Regions from separate parts of the Homo sapiens genome. Here region 1 is linked to region 2. Evidence: fine-mapped expression QTL. Tissue or cell type: blood mononuclear cells. Region 2 holds a variant in brackets; the other region holds the start of a gene. All regions are shown on one strand. Distances are between the middles of the regions.

Evidence for each region. PIP is the estimated chance that this variant, and not a neighbour inherited with it, causes the effect.
Region 1: FAM110B starts here. The variant in region 2 is fine-mapped to the expression of FAM110B in blood mononuclear cells (TOPMed, PIP 0.98).

The regions. Positions count from the first base shown.
Region 1 is chr8:57,990,501-57,998,612 of GRCh38, forward strand. It overlaps FAM110B (family with sequence similarity 110 member B), which reads left to right and starts at 4,023. Exons shown (of 4, transcript NM_001377989.1): 1 at 4,023-4,306. RefSeq lists silencers at 4,350-4,399, 4,420-4,469 and an enhancer at 4,474-4,974.
Region 2 is chr8:58,382,705-58,390,816 of GRCh38, forward strand. No RefSeq gene overlaps it. Among named protein-coding and RNA genes, the nearest start is that of UBXN2B, 25 kb to the right of the region's middle. The variant T/C (reference allele first, on the strand shown) is at 3,883.

The DNA.
Region 1 (8,112 bases), 390 kb before region 2:
TTTTAATTCATTTAAATTTCAATAGCCTCATGTGACTACTGCTCTCTTATTGTATAGGTAATATGTGAGATTCATTGGCAAGCTTGGCTTATAGTAAAGATATGTAGGCTTTGGGATCACATGGGCCAGGCTTTAAGTCCTCTAATCACTAACTCTGTGATCTTGGATTTGTCTCTTTCCTGGGCATGAACTTCTTGTTCATAAAATGGTAATCAATATTATGTACATTTAGGGCCGTTGTGACCACTGAAAATGAAAATGAAACATATAAACTGCTAGCACAAAGTTTCAATAAATGGTAGTTATTAGTATTAAATGATGGAGGTCAGCATTCAAGAACATAATTCGATCGTTTTGATCTTCTGGTCGCCAGCCTGAACATGCACTACGCTGAGAAACAAGCAACATGAGGGAACCCCCAGGGGCTGTTGCCCAGGATGGAGTGGAGTGGCCTCTTAGTCCAGCAACTGACAATGCTTTTCTATTTAGTGACTCTCTTATCTCAGCCTTGCTGTGAGCTGCCTTTTTTCAGTGTGATTGCTTCTAGCAAATCCTCCAGCTCCTCCTAAGGTGCATTCCTCGCTGCTTTTTTCTATTTCCTCAGAAGAACTATGGTTGTTAAGGGGAAAAGACAAATTGAGCTTGTTCAATCAATAACTTTAATTTTACATACAATTCTAAGACAATGGAGTCTGATCTGAGGGCTGAGGGGTTCTCAAGTCTTTTTCTGTGGAATTAAGAGCACAGATTCACAGACTTTGTTTACCTTAGCCCTGCCAGATCGCTACAATCTCTTGGGCAGATCTTTTAAAAAAAAAACAACACAGGCCTATCCGTTCTCCCTCAACCTAGAGACCTGGCATTAGTTGGGAGTACTGCAGGTGATTGTGTTTCGTGGTCTGAAAACCGCTGATGTATGCCAGGATTTCAGGGGGAGCTCTGGACAGACAGGGTGGTCTGACTGACCCTGGGTTAATTGAGGGACTGCTGTACCACTCTTAGGCAAGAAAATGGGTACAAGCATCCCACTGATCCAATACAGGCATGCTGGGGGTACTCTGGATATTTGACTGACATTTTCCCTGGCATAGCCAATCATTAGAACAAGTGCCACTTGGAGCGGGGACTGGATTCCAGAACTCTTTATTTTTTTACTTTTCCTCTGAAGCTGCTTTGGTTGTTTTGTTTTCAGAGATGCTCTCCTTTTGTGAGGCTTGCATCTGTTTATAATATGTTATTATTCAGCTTACGGGCTTTTATACATTTAAAGTTTCCCTAGTTGTTGACACAACTTAGGTACGTACCCATCTGGAGAAAGACTAGTGAAAACTCTGAGCTCATGTCTTTTCAAGCTCACATTTTCCCGTAAGAAACCATTTTGGCAGTCAGAGGATTAGAGCTAATAACTGCATGTCCCTAGGCTCCCTGCTTGCTAGGAATAGTCCCACTGTCCAGAGTCACCTGTGAATAATGGTTAAATTACATTCTGATTCGTGTATGGATGCTTGTTTGGGTACTAGTCAAATATTGTTACATACTTTTAGAGACAGAAACCTCTGTGAAACAAAAGAATTCCAAGCCTAGGATAATGGCCCACTTCTGAAGAATAAACAACACAATAAAATTCTAGTACAAACAACTAATTTCAACATTCTCTGAAAATCTGTAGCAGTCCTTAACATTTTCAGTCCCCAAAACAAGAAAACTATGTCCTAAATCAGCAAACATTAGGGATTATGAGAGCAGTTTTATTGGCATAATTGATAAGACAATATTTACTGAAATATTCCAGCATAGATGTTTTACTGTGTTCTCTCTGTCTCTTTAACCACATCTTTTATTGGTTTTTGGTTTTGGTGATGACAATTTGGGGCTATTAAATCTACACTGGGCAATAGTAAAACCCTAAATGAGAACCTTAATAATAAGAGTTAGGGGTCCTACTAAGTGAACTCCTTGGCATATACTTTATTATCAAGAAGTAGTTTAGGCAATAGAAAAGCTAAAACTTGGTCGGCGCAGTGGCTCACGTCTGTAATCCCAGAACTTTGGGCGCCTGAGGCAGGTGGATCACCTGAGGTCACGAGTTCCAGGCTAGCCTGGCCAACATGGCAAAATCCCGTCTCTACTAAAAATACAAAAATTAGCTGGGCGTGGTGGCCCGTGCCTATAATCTTAGCTACTCGGGAGGCTGAGGCAGGAGAATTGCTGAACCCAGGAGGTGGAGGTTGCAGTGAGTGGAGATCATGCCACTGCACTCCAGCCTGGGTGACAGAGTGAGACTCTGTCATCAAAAAAAAAAAAAAAAAAAAAAAGAAAGAAAGCTAAAACTCATTGGTTACATTCCTGATTTTCAAAGCATCGATCATAGGGGAATCTTTTATGATTTTATAAGTGAGTCTTCTGGAAAGAAACTTAACTCAAAATGGCATAAGCAAGAAAGACAATTTATTGGTGCATTACTTCAGAAGTTCAGGATTTGACTGGTTTTAGAGGTGACTGTCTTCGGATGGCCATTGATGTCATCAGGGCACTTTTCTGTCTCCATTGCTCAGTTTGGCTTTTTTTCTGGTTTTGTTTTATTCTCCAGTAAGTTGACTCCAGCTGCTGCACGCATATATGATATGGTCCCAGGAGCTGCCCTGTCAGTCAGGGAAAGGACCCTCCTCCTTTGTTCTCAGACGATATTCTAATTGGCTGGCCTGGGTCATATCCCTCACAATGTCAGGAAGCTCTGTGGGCTAGTCACACCCAATGGGAGGGGGAAATTCCTAAAAGGAAGGGATTGGGGCAAAGAAGTGGGGAAAAAAAGTATACTTGAGAGGGAGAGAAGTTGGTTCCATTTGCTATGGGAATGATGAAAAATAGTTTATTTCTATTGTTATATGACTTTTGGAGTTAATGGAGACCACAACGTAATCTGTGATAACAAGGAATGTATTAGTATGCCAAAGGAAAGTTCCATTTAAATCCCAGTATCATGTCACTTTCTTAAAATGGTAATCTTTAAATAGAAAAAAAATATATTATTATAAAGTCTGAGTTTTATTTAGTTGGCAACTTCTTAACTATTATGAAACAATAGATTCATTGAATTGAAGCACAATTCAAATATAAACGATCTTTCTGAGAAAATGAGATGAGTGAAATCGTATTGTTAATGTACCAGAGATTAAAAAGAAATCCTTGCTCAATATTTTCTAGAAGAAACAATTATTTTGTGAGTCCATATCCCATTCAAATTCATTTTGATAAAGATGGATTTTATCTTTTAGACTTCCCAATAGCAAAATTAAATTACAATGTGTTTAGTCTTCCTAAAACAAATCCTCTCCTGAAACAACCAAGTTATTAAGCAAATCTAAGCAGAAAGTATTCTCAAATACTATATTAGGCGATTAATAATGACGCACCCCAAAGCATTTCATTTTAAAACATCAGCTGGCCCACATTTCAGAGGTAGTACATCATGCTTGATATTTTTCGTTATTTACTATTTTCTCCAAACATTTTTTTGAAGTCTTAAAAATGCCTTCAGAAATTAAGCTAGGACGCTCCATCTGAGTATATGAAAGTTAGTAAACAGAAAATGTCAAGCACCAAGACGTTTGGATGGCTGGACTACCAGGTGGGGTTATCTCATTCAGGGCACAGGCTCTACGTCTCCAGTGCTGAGCGATCTGCACTGGGGTGGCAGTCCGAGATCCAGCGGTATCACCGGGTGGGAGCAGGGTGGGGGTGCTTGCGTGCGGACATAGGTGGGAGTGGGGGATAGGGAGGAAATGGAGGCGCCGACCGAGTGGAATGGGGGGTGGGTCAGGGATGGGGTGGGATGGGCATCAGTAGCGGGGTGGAGATGTTGAGAGAGAGGCAGGGCTTGGAGTGGAGGTGCGAGAAGGGTGGGGACCCGGAAGGTGGGGTGGGGGCGGGATGGAGGCGGGGCGGGGTGTACGAGGGGCGTGTACACTGGCTCAGGGACACGCGCTCTCGGCCACAGCAACTGGCTCCAAGTTCCCTCCCTCACTCTCCGGCGAAGCCTGCCTGAGCCCTCCCACTCGGTGCAGACCGAACCATCGCGGCCGCCGCCAGCCGGGCCCTTCGCGGCCGCGCGTCCTGGGCCCGTTCCGCCAGCCCCGTCTGCTCTCTACCCGCGGCCCCGCGGCGGCGACCGTGAACACTCGGCGGCCCCTACAGCCCGCTCTCGGCCCTTCGTCCCTCGCGGGCCCCGACTCTCCCTCCTTGCAGTCCCCCGGAGCCTGGCTCCCGGCTCGGGCCGCACCGCCAGGGACTGGGGTGAGCGGCCCAGGTAAGACTGGGCCGTGGGGGCCGGGAGAGAGACTGCTGGGCGGGGGTTGGGATTCGGGTTCAGTGGTCGCGCCGCGCCCCGACTGCGGACAATGCGGGAGCTGCGCGCGGCCAGGCGGCGCGGAGCTAAGCCGGCTCTGCGCCTGCAGCTTCCCCGCCCGGCCCGGGTCTCCGTTGAGCCCGGCCTCACTGGCCCAGGCGGACCCCGTCCGGCTTTCTGGGCTGCCGGGGGAGGCGCAGCGCCGCTGCCTGCCCCGCGCCCCCTCTGCGCTCGGCTTGGCTGCACGTCCCGGGCTCGGCTAGGAGGCTGGGCACGGGGCCGGGGCTGGAGCCGGGGTTGGAGCCAGGGCGGGGGGAAGCTGGCCGCGCTGCGGAGCGGAGGTGGGCTCCGAAAGCGCGCCGCCGGTTGCTGCTGGAGGAGTGGGACTACGAAGGATGGGGACTCCGCTCGGCCACCGCTCCTGAATGGTCTCTAATCTCGGTGTTAAATACTTTATGAGAGTATCAATACCACCTAATCCTTTGCTGAGAATTACTGCTAGAAATGTAGATTCTGAGGTTCCGAAAGTTTGTTTTTGGTTACCCCCTCCAGCTCCTCCCGTGGCCTCAATTGTCTCTATTTTCTTTGAAAGCATACAGATTTGAAATAGAATTAAATTCTCCTTGGCTCACTCGTGTCTCCATCACCCAGCGGAGCTCATAACTTGGCAACAAAGCCCATACAGGCTGTGGGAAGCCGCGATGCCTGCTGCCCAGCCTGGTGCCCTCCTATTGTTTAGAGCTGGAGCTGTACAGTGTAAATGGCAGTGACAGGTCTCCCTTAAGCTGGCTCGTGGGGAAGGAAGGGAGATAACTTTGCAGTGTGCTTAAATTACTCTGGAAAGTGGAAAGAAAACACCTGGTGCTCAGCTTTTTAACCCTTTCAAGTTGTTATTCAGATTTATTGACACACACACACAGAAAAGTGCAGGCTTTCTTTCCTGCCTAAAAAATAGGCAACCTCTGTGTTCTTCCTCACAGCCAACTTATGTCCTCTGCAAAATCTGGCACACATCTGTGACAACATTGCACTTCTGGCGTAACTGGTCTATTTCTCAAAAGGGAATATGATAGTAGAATAAGCATTTTTGCAGTATGGATAGTAGGACTTCCATTTTCTTCGTTTCCTTTGTTGGTGAAGAAGGTATTTATTATTTTCCCCCCAGTTTACACGTAGTGATTTCTGGGAAGATACTTGTATTAATTTCTTGTACTCATTTTTGTGACATCACAACCCCTGGTCATTCAGGTAAGCTATTTATTAAGCATAGTTATTCTAGAATAAAGGTGAGTTAATGGTAAACTAGAATCCTTCACTGATAACATCCCATTGGTTTACCCTACGGTATTTAATCTGTAGTATTACTATAGATTGTACATGTAAAGTCACTAATTGAACAGAGAGGTGGTTGGTGCCTTGTTAGCCTGACATAAAGTGCTTAGAACAGTGCCTTGCATATAGTTCTAGGTGTCAGCTAATATTACTTTTAATTTTTCTTATCAAGCTATGTGTTATTTTCTGTTTGGAAAATGGTCGTTTTGATTTTTAAAATTCTGATCTGTTAGGTCATGATCTATTTTAAGTCTGTGGTTTTAATTTTAGATCAGGGCTGAGGTTGGGTTGTTATTATGCCTATGACTGACAGGCTTCTCTGCGTATCCTTATGCATGGTGAGGGTTGATTTAATTCATCTTATATATTGGATCTCTAAGGGCAAGACATCAGTCTTGAACCCAGTCATGCCCTGGTGCCTTTCATAAGGAGACCTGGTTGTCTTTAAGAGCCTAATTGTTTAAAGAGAGGCCTCCACATTAGGGAAGACCTGGGCTCTGAACCCCATTCCTTACCTCCCCTGCACTCCCTTGTTCTCTAGGTTTAGAATCCCACTTCCAATTCCCAATGGAAAGAACCGTTGGTACAGCAGAGTTAAGTAACTCTCACAGTGTTAAAAGATGATAAAAGATAAATATGTCTACTGTATATACAACAACCAGAGCATTTAATTCTTTTTCATGCTTTAAAATATTTTAGAGCAGGATTTATAGCCTAACTAGCTAAGATAAGAAAACTCACTTATTTAAAACTACTTATTTGCCATGTGTTAGTAACCAAAGATTGTGTTTCCTATTTAGATATTTTAAATGATTGTCAGGAGTTTACTCTTATTTCATGTTCTCCTTTCCCCTTTAACTTTGAAGTGACTTTTTAAAAAATCGTGATTCCTAAATAACTTAGCTAAGCGAAGGCATGGTATTAACTCTTAGGGCCCTGCAGAAGCAAAACTGCTGTAGGCACAGTGGCTTGGCAGTAGATGGTGCTGTGGACAAGGCTGGTGGAGGAGGCATATGTATGGTCTAGTAGAATCCCAGGGATTAATTTAGCAATCCCATTGTTTGCTGCCCCCCAAAACATACTCTTACCAACCAGACACTGTCCAACAATCTTTTTGGGAATACAGTTTGTTTTTAAATTTGTACTTTATATGTTCAACATTTGTAGACTATTGGCCATTTTTCTGTCTGAAAGCCATCGCATTTTAGGTGCTAGACAAACATTGCTTGTAAAAATATTATTATGAAACTGTTCACTTTATTTTATTTTCCCATTGTAGAGTCAGATTGATCAGCTGAGCCTAGAGATCTCCAACTAATCTGAACTTTTTTTCATACTTAACTTTTTAGGAGAGAGAAACAAATGATCAGAAACCTACTTGCATCTTGAATTTATTTAAGAAAACAACTTCCTAGGGCCAATTCTCATTTACTTTGATTTGCATCATTCTTCTGGCTCCTGGTATGATGCAGTGAGAATTGATATTCAGGATGAAGACTGAAGTGTTGCAAAGTCATGACTCATCCAAGAAAAATACATTCATTCTATTCAGTACAGACACCAAGGCTAGAAATCTAGTACACTCAGAAAAAGGATTTTCTGGTTCATAATAACAGTTATCTCTAAGGGCTGGCTCTGGGACCAGCAAAATCCTCGATGGTTGATGGTGGGTGTGGTGTCTCCTCTAAGAGAGAGTAGGTGCTGTTATCCCCTTTCTATAATACAAGTGAAGGGAAGTGACTTATCTGAGTCACATAGCTAATATGTAGCAAGGTGTGTGTGTCTCCAGACCCCATGAATCTTTCTGTCATGCCAGGAGGAATAACTTCTGCCTTGTACATTCAGTTGCTGGAAGTGTTTGTGTTTCATACCTTCTTTTCAGGTTTGATGTCAACAAATCTCTTCTCTATAACTCATTGACATACTTTGAATTTTGTGGTTAACATTTGATTATCAAAGAGTCTAAAATGAGAAAAGGTACGCCACTTTTAGTTTTCAGGGGAAACCTTTTAAGATTTCACAATACCTTGTTAAAGATCACTTGTTTTAGGAAGGTTGAGGAGAGAGATGGCACATTTAGCTTCTTTGAACTATGTAGACTCTGATAAAAATGTCTTAGATTTAGAAGTAATAAAGAATGTTGGGTCTGTTTTTGGCTTCGTTGCTCAGGTGTTCTGAGAGCAGCACAGCTCCCCCTATGCCAAGTGACTTTCTTTCCCTTAGGTTAAAGGAGGTTTATTCATTTTGATCACTTAAGTACATCAGAGGGGATTATGATGATTTTGGAAACATTGAATCAAATCTTCATTTCATATATTCATTTATTTTATTTTAGACTTTAGGCAGAGCCTAATATAATTTTTTAATGTTGATTTTTTTGTACTGAAAACATTATAGAAATACAAAAATGTAATATTTGGGAATTGTTCAGAAGA
Region 2 (8,112 bases):
GGAAATGCGGAGAGGTCTTGCCTCTACAAAAAGTACAAAGGTTAGCCAGGTGTGGTGGCACACACCTGTAGTCCCACCTACTCAGGAGGCTGAGGTGGGAGGATTGCTTGAGCCTGGGAGGCAGAGTTTGTAGTGAGCCATGATCACACCACTGCATTCTAGCCTGGGCAATAGAGTGCAACCCCATCTCAAAATAAATAAATAAATAAATAAAATAATAAAAAATAAACCTGCAGACAGACTCCACAAATAAAAACTGTTAGAACTAATAAACAAAGTTGCACAAGAATCAGTAGCATTTCTGTATAATAATGTATACTAACAACAAACTATCTGAAAAGAAATGAAGAGTCAATCCCATTTACAATAGATAGCAAAAAAAGAAAATGCTTAGGAATAAATTTAACCAAGGAAGTGAAAGACCTGCACACTGAAAACTAGAAGACATTGATGAAAGAAATCAAAGACCGTTGTTTTAATAAGCCTTTTAATACTACAGTCAGTTGTGTGATGATGCTTGCTTTGAAAACCAAATTTGTCCTGGCACAATTAATTAACTTATTCATTTGGGAAAATTACTCAAATTTCCCATTTTCTTATGCATGATTTTGTCTGCAAGAAACACTAGGAATATTTCATCCAACTGAACTAAATTGTAGGAATACACAAAACACATACCCCCTTCCAATTCCTACTAGCTAACTCCATTCACCATGCATGTGAGCCACACCCATTCACATCCCTTATTATGTACATCATATTACTCTAAAAGATGAGCAGCATTGAATATATACACCTGGTGTTCTTTGTCACACCAACATTAGTCATTTCAGGTTTTTTTTTTTTATTTGCTGTTAACTACTTAAAATATTTACTTCCTAGTCATTATGAGTCAAATCAATGTGTGCCACTCATGAAGTATTTTGAGTGTCAGGCCTGTAATCTCATTTTTGCCCTGTGATGTGTTTTGTTGTTGTTGTTGTTGTTGTTGTTTGTTTGTTTGAGACAGTTTTGCTCTTGTTGCCCAGGCTGGAGTGCAATGGCACGATCTCGGCTCACCACAACCTCCACCTCGTGGGTTCAAGCGATTCTCCTGCCTCAGCCTCCCGAGTAGCTGGGATTACAGGCATGTGCCACGATACCCAGCCAATTTTGTATTTTTTAGTAGAGACGGGGTTTCTCCATGTTGGTCAGGCTGGTCTCGATCTCCCGACCTCAGGTGATCCACCTGCCTCAGCCTCCCAAAGTGCTGGGATTACAGGTGTGAGCCACCACACCTAGCCTTGTGATGTGTGTTTGTTGCTAGTTTTTATTGTTGTTGCCAGTGTGTATTTTTTTTTTTTTTTTTTTTGAGACGGAGTCTCACTCTTTCACCCAGGCTGGAGTGCAGTGGCGCGATCTCGGCTCACTGCAGGCTCTGCCCGCCGGGGTTCACGCCATTCTCCTGCCTCAGCCTCCCACGTAGCTGGGACTACAGGCCCCCGCCACCTCGCCCAGCTAATTTTTTGTATTTTTAGTAGAGACAGGGTTTCACCGTGTTAGCCAGGATGGTCTCGATCTCCTGACCTCGTGATCCGCCCGCCTCGGCCTTCCAAAGTGCTGGGATTACAGGCGTGAGCCACCGCGCCCGGCCACTAGTGTGTATTTTTAAAAATTAATTGACTTCATTTTTTAGAGCAGTTTTAGCTTTACAGAAAAAATTGAATGGAAAACACAGAGAGTTCCCATATAATTTGCTTCCCTTTTATTAATTAACATCTTGCATTAGTGCTGTACATTTATTACACTTGATAAGCCGATATTGATACATTATTAACTAAAGTCAATAGTTACATTAGAATTAACTCACCGTATGTTTATTGCGGCACTATTCACAATAGCAAAGACTTGGAACCAACCCAAATGTCGAACAATGATAGACTGGATTAATAAAATGTGGCACGTATACACCATGGGATGTTACGCAGCCATAAAAAATGATGAGCTCATGTCCTTTGTAGGGACATGGATGAAGCTGGAAACCATCATTCTCAGCAAATTATCACAAGGACAAAAAACCAAACACTGCATGTTCTCACTCATAGGTGGGAATTGAACAGTGAGAACACATGGACACAGGAAGGGGAACATCACACACACTGTTGTCGGGTGGGGGGAGTGGGGAGGGATAGCATCAGGAGATATACCTAATGCTGAATGACGAGTTAATGGGTGCAGCACACCAACATGGCACATGTATACATATGTAACAAATCTGCACGTTGTGCGCATGTACCCTAAAACTTAAAGTATAATAATAATAAAAAAAAAAGAATTCACTCTGTGTTGCAATTCTATGGGTTTTGACAAGCATATAATGACATGTATCCATCATGATAGTATCATAAAGAATTGTTTCACTTCACTTAAATCTCCCTGTGCTCCCCCTATTAATCCTTTCCTTTCCTATCCCCCATCCCCAATCCTTGGCAACCACTGATCTTTTGTCTATCTCCACAGTTTTGTCTTTTCTAGAATGACATATAGTTGAAATCCTACAGTATGTAGCCTTTTCAGATTGGCTTCTCCCACTTAGCAATATGCACCTAAGATTTCTCCATGTCTTTTCATGGTTTGATACCTCATTTCTTTTTATTGCAGAATAATATTCCATTGTCTGGATATACCATATTTTATTTATCTAATCACCTTCTGAAGGACATCTTGGTTTCTTCCAATTTTTGCTAATTATGAATAAAGCTGCTATAAACACCCATGTGCAGGTTTTTGTGTGAACAGGTTTTCAACCCATTTGGGTAAACAACAAGGGGTGTGATTGCTGGATCATGTGGTAAGAGTATGTTTAGTTTTATAAGAAACCACCAAACTGTCTTCCAAAGTGACTGTATAAAGTTGTATTCCCACCAGCAATGAATGAGAGTTTCTGATGCTCTACATCCTTGCCAGCATTTGGTGTTGTCAGTGTTCTGTATTTTGGCCATTCTGATAGATGTGTAGTGGCACCTTTTTTTAATTGCAATTCCCTAATGAGGTAGGCTCAGCCTCTTTTCATACGCTTGTTTGCCATCTCTATATCTCCTCTGGTCAGGTGTCTGTTCAGGTCTTTTGCCCATTTTTAAATTAAGTTGTTCGTTTTCTTATTTGTTGAGTTTAAAGAGGTTTTTGTATATTTTGTATGCCAGTACTTTATCAGATATATGTTTTGCAAATATTTTCTCAAAGTCTGGCTTGTCTTTCCATTCCCTAAACAGTGTGTTTTGCAGAGCAGAAGTTTTTAATTTTAATAAGGTACAACCTATCATTGTTTTCATGGATCATACTTTTTATTGCTTTATTTTGCACAGCTCAGTGATTTTCAGGAATTTATATAGTGTGTAATGGCCACTGACCACATTTATCTTTCTCAACCATTCATTTATTTGGCCAGATAATTTCATTTTGGATAAGTTTCCCAAATAATTGGTACAAAAGTATTGAATAGCATAATTTATTATGGTGAAAAAGTGGAATTCTAATGGAAAACAGTTGAGGCTGGGTAATTCAAGAGAATATTAACAACATGAAATACTAATATAGGTGTTCAAAACTGTTAGCATGTCAACATTCTTTACATACAAAAATAAGTTGATGCAAAGGTTGAAAGAAGAAAGCAGACTATAAAATATGCTTCATACATTAATTTCAACTAAGAAAAAATGTATTTTGACAAATAGAAATAAAAAGTTGGTAACATGCATTAGAGCAAGTAACAAATCCCATGATCTTAGTACACATCTGTTTTTCACTCATGCAAAGTTAAATACAAATATTCGAGGTGGGCAGCAGCTAAAGGGTCCAGACGCCTTCCATCTGCGGCTCTGCCATCCCCTAGGTTCCTAGAGT[T/C]CTCGGCCAATTCCTCTGCATGGATCTCAGAGATGGAAGAAGAGTATGGGCGATCACAGAAGATTTCTAAAGGCCAAACTCAGAGGGCTGAACCCACTTGCACCCAGACGGTCACATCAAGGCAGGCTAGGAAAAGTAGTCTAGCTCTGTGCCCAGGAGACAGAACAATTTTTCACCTACATAGACCGCTCTGCTCTTGGCAAAAGTAGACCAGTTTTCATAGACTCCTTTCTCCTTTCAATTGTGCTTAAATCCATCATAGTATATCTCATTATTATCTTAATTCAGTTCCTGAGTCTGGATTATGAGAGTTTAGATACCACTTATGCAAGTCTATTAGGTTTCTGTATTCAGATAGCTAGAGTTTTGATAGCTAGGATTTATTCATTCCTTATTTAAAAGAAAGAAAATTGAAATTTGCAGACTTTCTGAGTTCATCCCCTATCCTTCATTCAGACAATACCTCCTAAATCAACTCAGATTATTGCTTATCCTATTTAAAATTTTTATAGCAAAATTATGTCTTGTCAAGGAAACAATGTATAACCATTTTTTCTCTAAGTGATTCACATTTCTAACTTAATTCTTTTATTTTTTAACATAAAGCAGAATTGCATAAAATTTTTTCTAAGTAGAAAAATATAACTCTAATTAGGGCTTCTAACCTGCATATTAAGAACCAGGGTTTGATTATGCATTGGTGGCATTCACCAGGGTCAGTTCCGGTAAAAGTGTTTTAGCATTAATTGTCTTACATGATATAAGCATCTGTAAAATTATATTTGGGGAGTAAAATATCTTTATCAGAGTAATTCCTTCTTAATTTTTTTAAATGTTAATTATCATCTTTAGTATTGTTCTCTAGTTACTAATTTTAACAAAAGTTCTATGAAGTGTTGGAAATTTTATAGAGTAAGCCAATTATCATTACCACAAAAAAATTATTTTGTGTACTTCTTTGCTGGTTTTTCCAGGAGATTTTTATTATTAACTTGTCACATTGCATAAAATATTCCATTGGGGCTCTTAGTGAATATTTACATTTAATCTATGTTTAACTTAAACAGTATTCTCATTTTTACTATAGTTAGTCTATAATGGTAAGTATCTTCCTCTGTATTTCTTACTAAAGTTTTATCATATTCTGTTAATATACATTTTATGTTTCAAGACAAATCACTATCCATTTATGCAGTCTTTTGTTATTTTATCTATTTATTTTCTAACTACATGTCATTAATGTACATAATTAATTTTTTAAAGAATTGTTTGACCAACGTGGCACATGTATACCTATGTAACAAACCTGCACATTGTGCACATGTACCCTAGAACTTAAAGTATAATAAAAATAAAAAATAAATAAATAAAATTAAATTCAAATGAAATGAACCTAAAAAAAAAGAATTGTTTGAAATCTTGATTGGTGCAAGATGGTATCTCATTGTGGTTTTGATTTACATTTCTCTGATGATTAGAGATATTGAGCAGTTTTTTCATGTTTGGCCACTTGTTTTTCTTCTTTTAAGAAGTGTCTGTTTGTGCCCTTTCCCCACTTTTTAATGGAGTTATTTGATTTTTCTTGTTGAGTTTCTTGTAGATTCTGGATATCAGTCCTCTGTCGGATGCACAGTTTGCAAATATTTTCTCTCATTCTGTAGGTTATCTGTTTACTCCTTTGATTATTTCTTCTGCTGTGCAGAAACTCTTTAGTTTAATTAAGTCCCATTTGTCTATTTTTGGTTTTGTTGCATTTGCTTTTGAGGTCTTAGTCATAAATTCTTGGAACTTCTGGAGAACTTCTAAGTTTTTGATTGATGCCTTTGATTTTTTTTATAATTATACAATTAGTAAAAGGTGATCTTCTAGCAAGATAGCTGGAGACCTTATTTGAGGCTCTCCTTTATCTTCTTATAAAGTATATTTCAAGTTTAAGTAAGATAAACAAAGTTCAATCTCTGTTCACTTATTGTCTTCTAATTAAGTCAATTAATTAAAACCAAACTATTTATAAAATTTACTAAATTAAGAAAACTATAACAGATTGGAAATCATGTCACCTAAGATTATTAATTAAATTTGGATTTCTTTTCCATAGACACTAAAAGAACAAATTAATAATTGACTGATATCTTAGGTGAGTACATTAAATGTAACAGAAATTTTATAAACGCATTCTCTATATAACATTAAAATTTTACTACAATGAAAAAGAATATTTCTAAAATGAATCTTGAAGAAAGATTCCAAGTTACTAGATCAGTAACTATTTGAGGTGTTATAACATCACCACCTACTGGAGGATTAGAATAGGAAGATTTTCATTTTGGAAATCATCAATAGCAATATCGATTGAACTTAGAAATTCTTTCATTTGTACAATTTTTTAAGGTATTGAGGCCCTAACCCCTTACCTTACACACCTGAGATAATAGACACAGAAGGGCTAAATAGGGTTCAATGATTTGCTCAAAATCATACCACTAATTGTATATAAGACTATCATAGATGACTAATTATATGTAAGACTCTAAACCAGGTTCCCTGGTTCTCAGTCACATGATCTTTGTGCCTTAACTTGCCCTTACAACGTGCCATATTGACTGTCAAAATCCATTTTAATAATGGTTAAAACATTTTTGAAGTAAAAGCAAAGTTGGTTTTCCCATAAATATTATTATATTGATAGCTTTCCCATTATTCTTTTACTGCCTCATTTTATCTTAGAATAATTAAGAAATAAATTTCGATTAAGTTCTTATGTTTTCTCCTATAGATGATGATTGATTGAATTATTTAGTGCAAGCGAGTTTATGTTTCTCATAATATCTCTTTATTTTCTGACCCATAATTAAAGAAAGAAAGAAGGTAGCATTTTTCAACTTTCTGATAGACAACTTAAGACTGTTGGCAATAGTGTGGGAAAAGAGGCTCCCTCATAAACTGTAAGTGAGAGAGTAAATTAGTGCTAAAGTTTGCTAGTAATTTGATAGTCTCTAACAAATTTTAAATCACGCAGCCTTTGGCATGGCAATTCCACTGTTGGAATCCAGTCTACAGATACTTTTGCACAAATATTTATTGCAGCATTATTGGTAATAGCAGAGACAAATCTGGAAACAACCTGCATATTATTAATATAAGACTGACAAATTATAAGATATCAATATAGAATACTATATAAAATACTATGCTGCCGTTTTTTAAAATAACATAGTACTGTGCATACTAAAAAAATAATTAAAGTTATTTAAAGGAAGGAGCCAGCCTTTGCTTTATATGTATACTGTCATTTCACATGTGTAAAAATATGGAACTTTATAAATATTTATAATATAATAAATACAAAATATATTAATATATGACTTTATGGATTTCATTTTATAAATAAATATAATAAATGTCTGCACATACAGATGCTCTTTGGCTTAAGATGAGGTTACATCCTGATAAACCCATTGTTAAGTTGAAAATATCATTAAGTAAAAATGCATTTATGACACCGTAGTTTAGCCTGTCCTACCCTAAATGTGTTCAGCTTATATTTGCCAAAAGTTGGGCAAAATCAGCTGGCAACACTGCACACGGCAGAGCGCCAGTCCTTCACTCTTATGATAGCATGGCTGACTGGGAGCTGTGGCTTGCTACTGCTGCTCAGCATGTACCATATATCACTAGCCCAGGAAAACATCAAAGTTTAAAATCAAAGTACAGTTTCTACTGAATGCCTATGGCTTTTGCACCATTGTAAATTCCAAAACTTGTTAAGCCAAACCATGGTAAGTTAGGGACTGTCTATGTGTGTATGTATATACACAAACAAATATGCACATTTGTTTATGCACAGAAAAGTCCCTAACATAATGCATTACACCTTGTTCAGGTTATGACTCACATAGCAAAATAATGGTCCCAAACTCTGGAGGAAAACTAGAGGGGATGTAAAAGTATCTATATGAAGCTTGGTATTTTAAAAAATCATAATGTTTTCTTTATATTACAAAATTATGATTAAAACCACATAGTATTTGGGAAGATACTAAATACTGATTTAAACTTCTGAAAAGTTGTTTTTAAATATTGATGTATTTCTAAGTTTGTTATCTCCAACATAATTTTTTAGTGGGCGATTTTATTCTGTAAATGGCTACATGCAATTTCTGGTCAAAACTCTTCCAAAATGGTTTAATTGAAGCTAGGCACAAAAAGATAAATATCAAACGTTCTCAC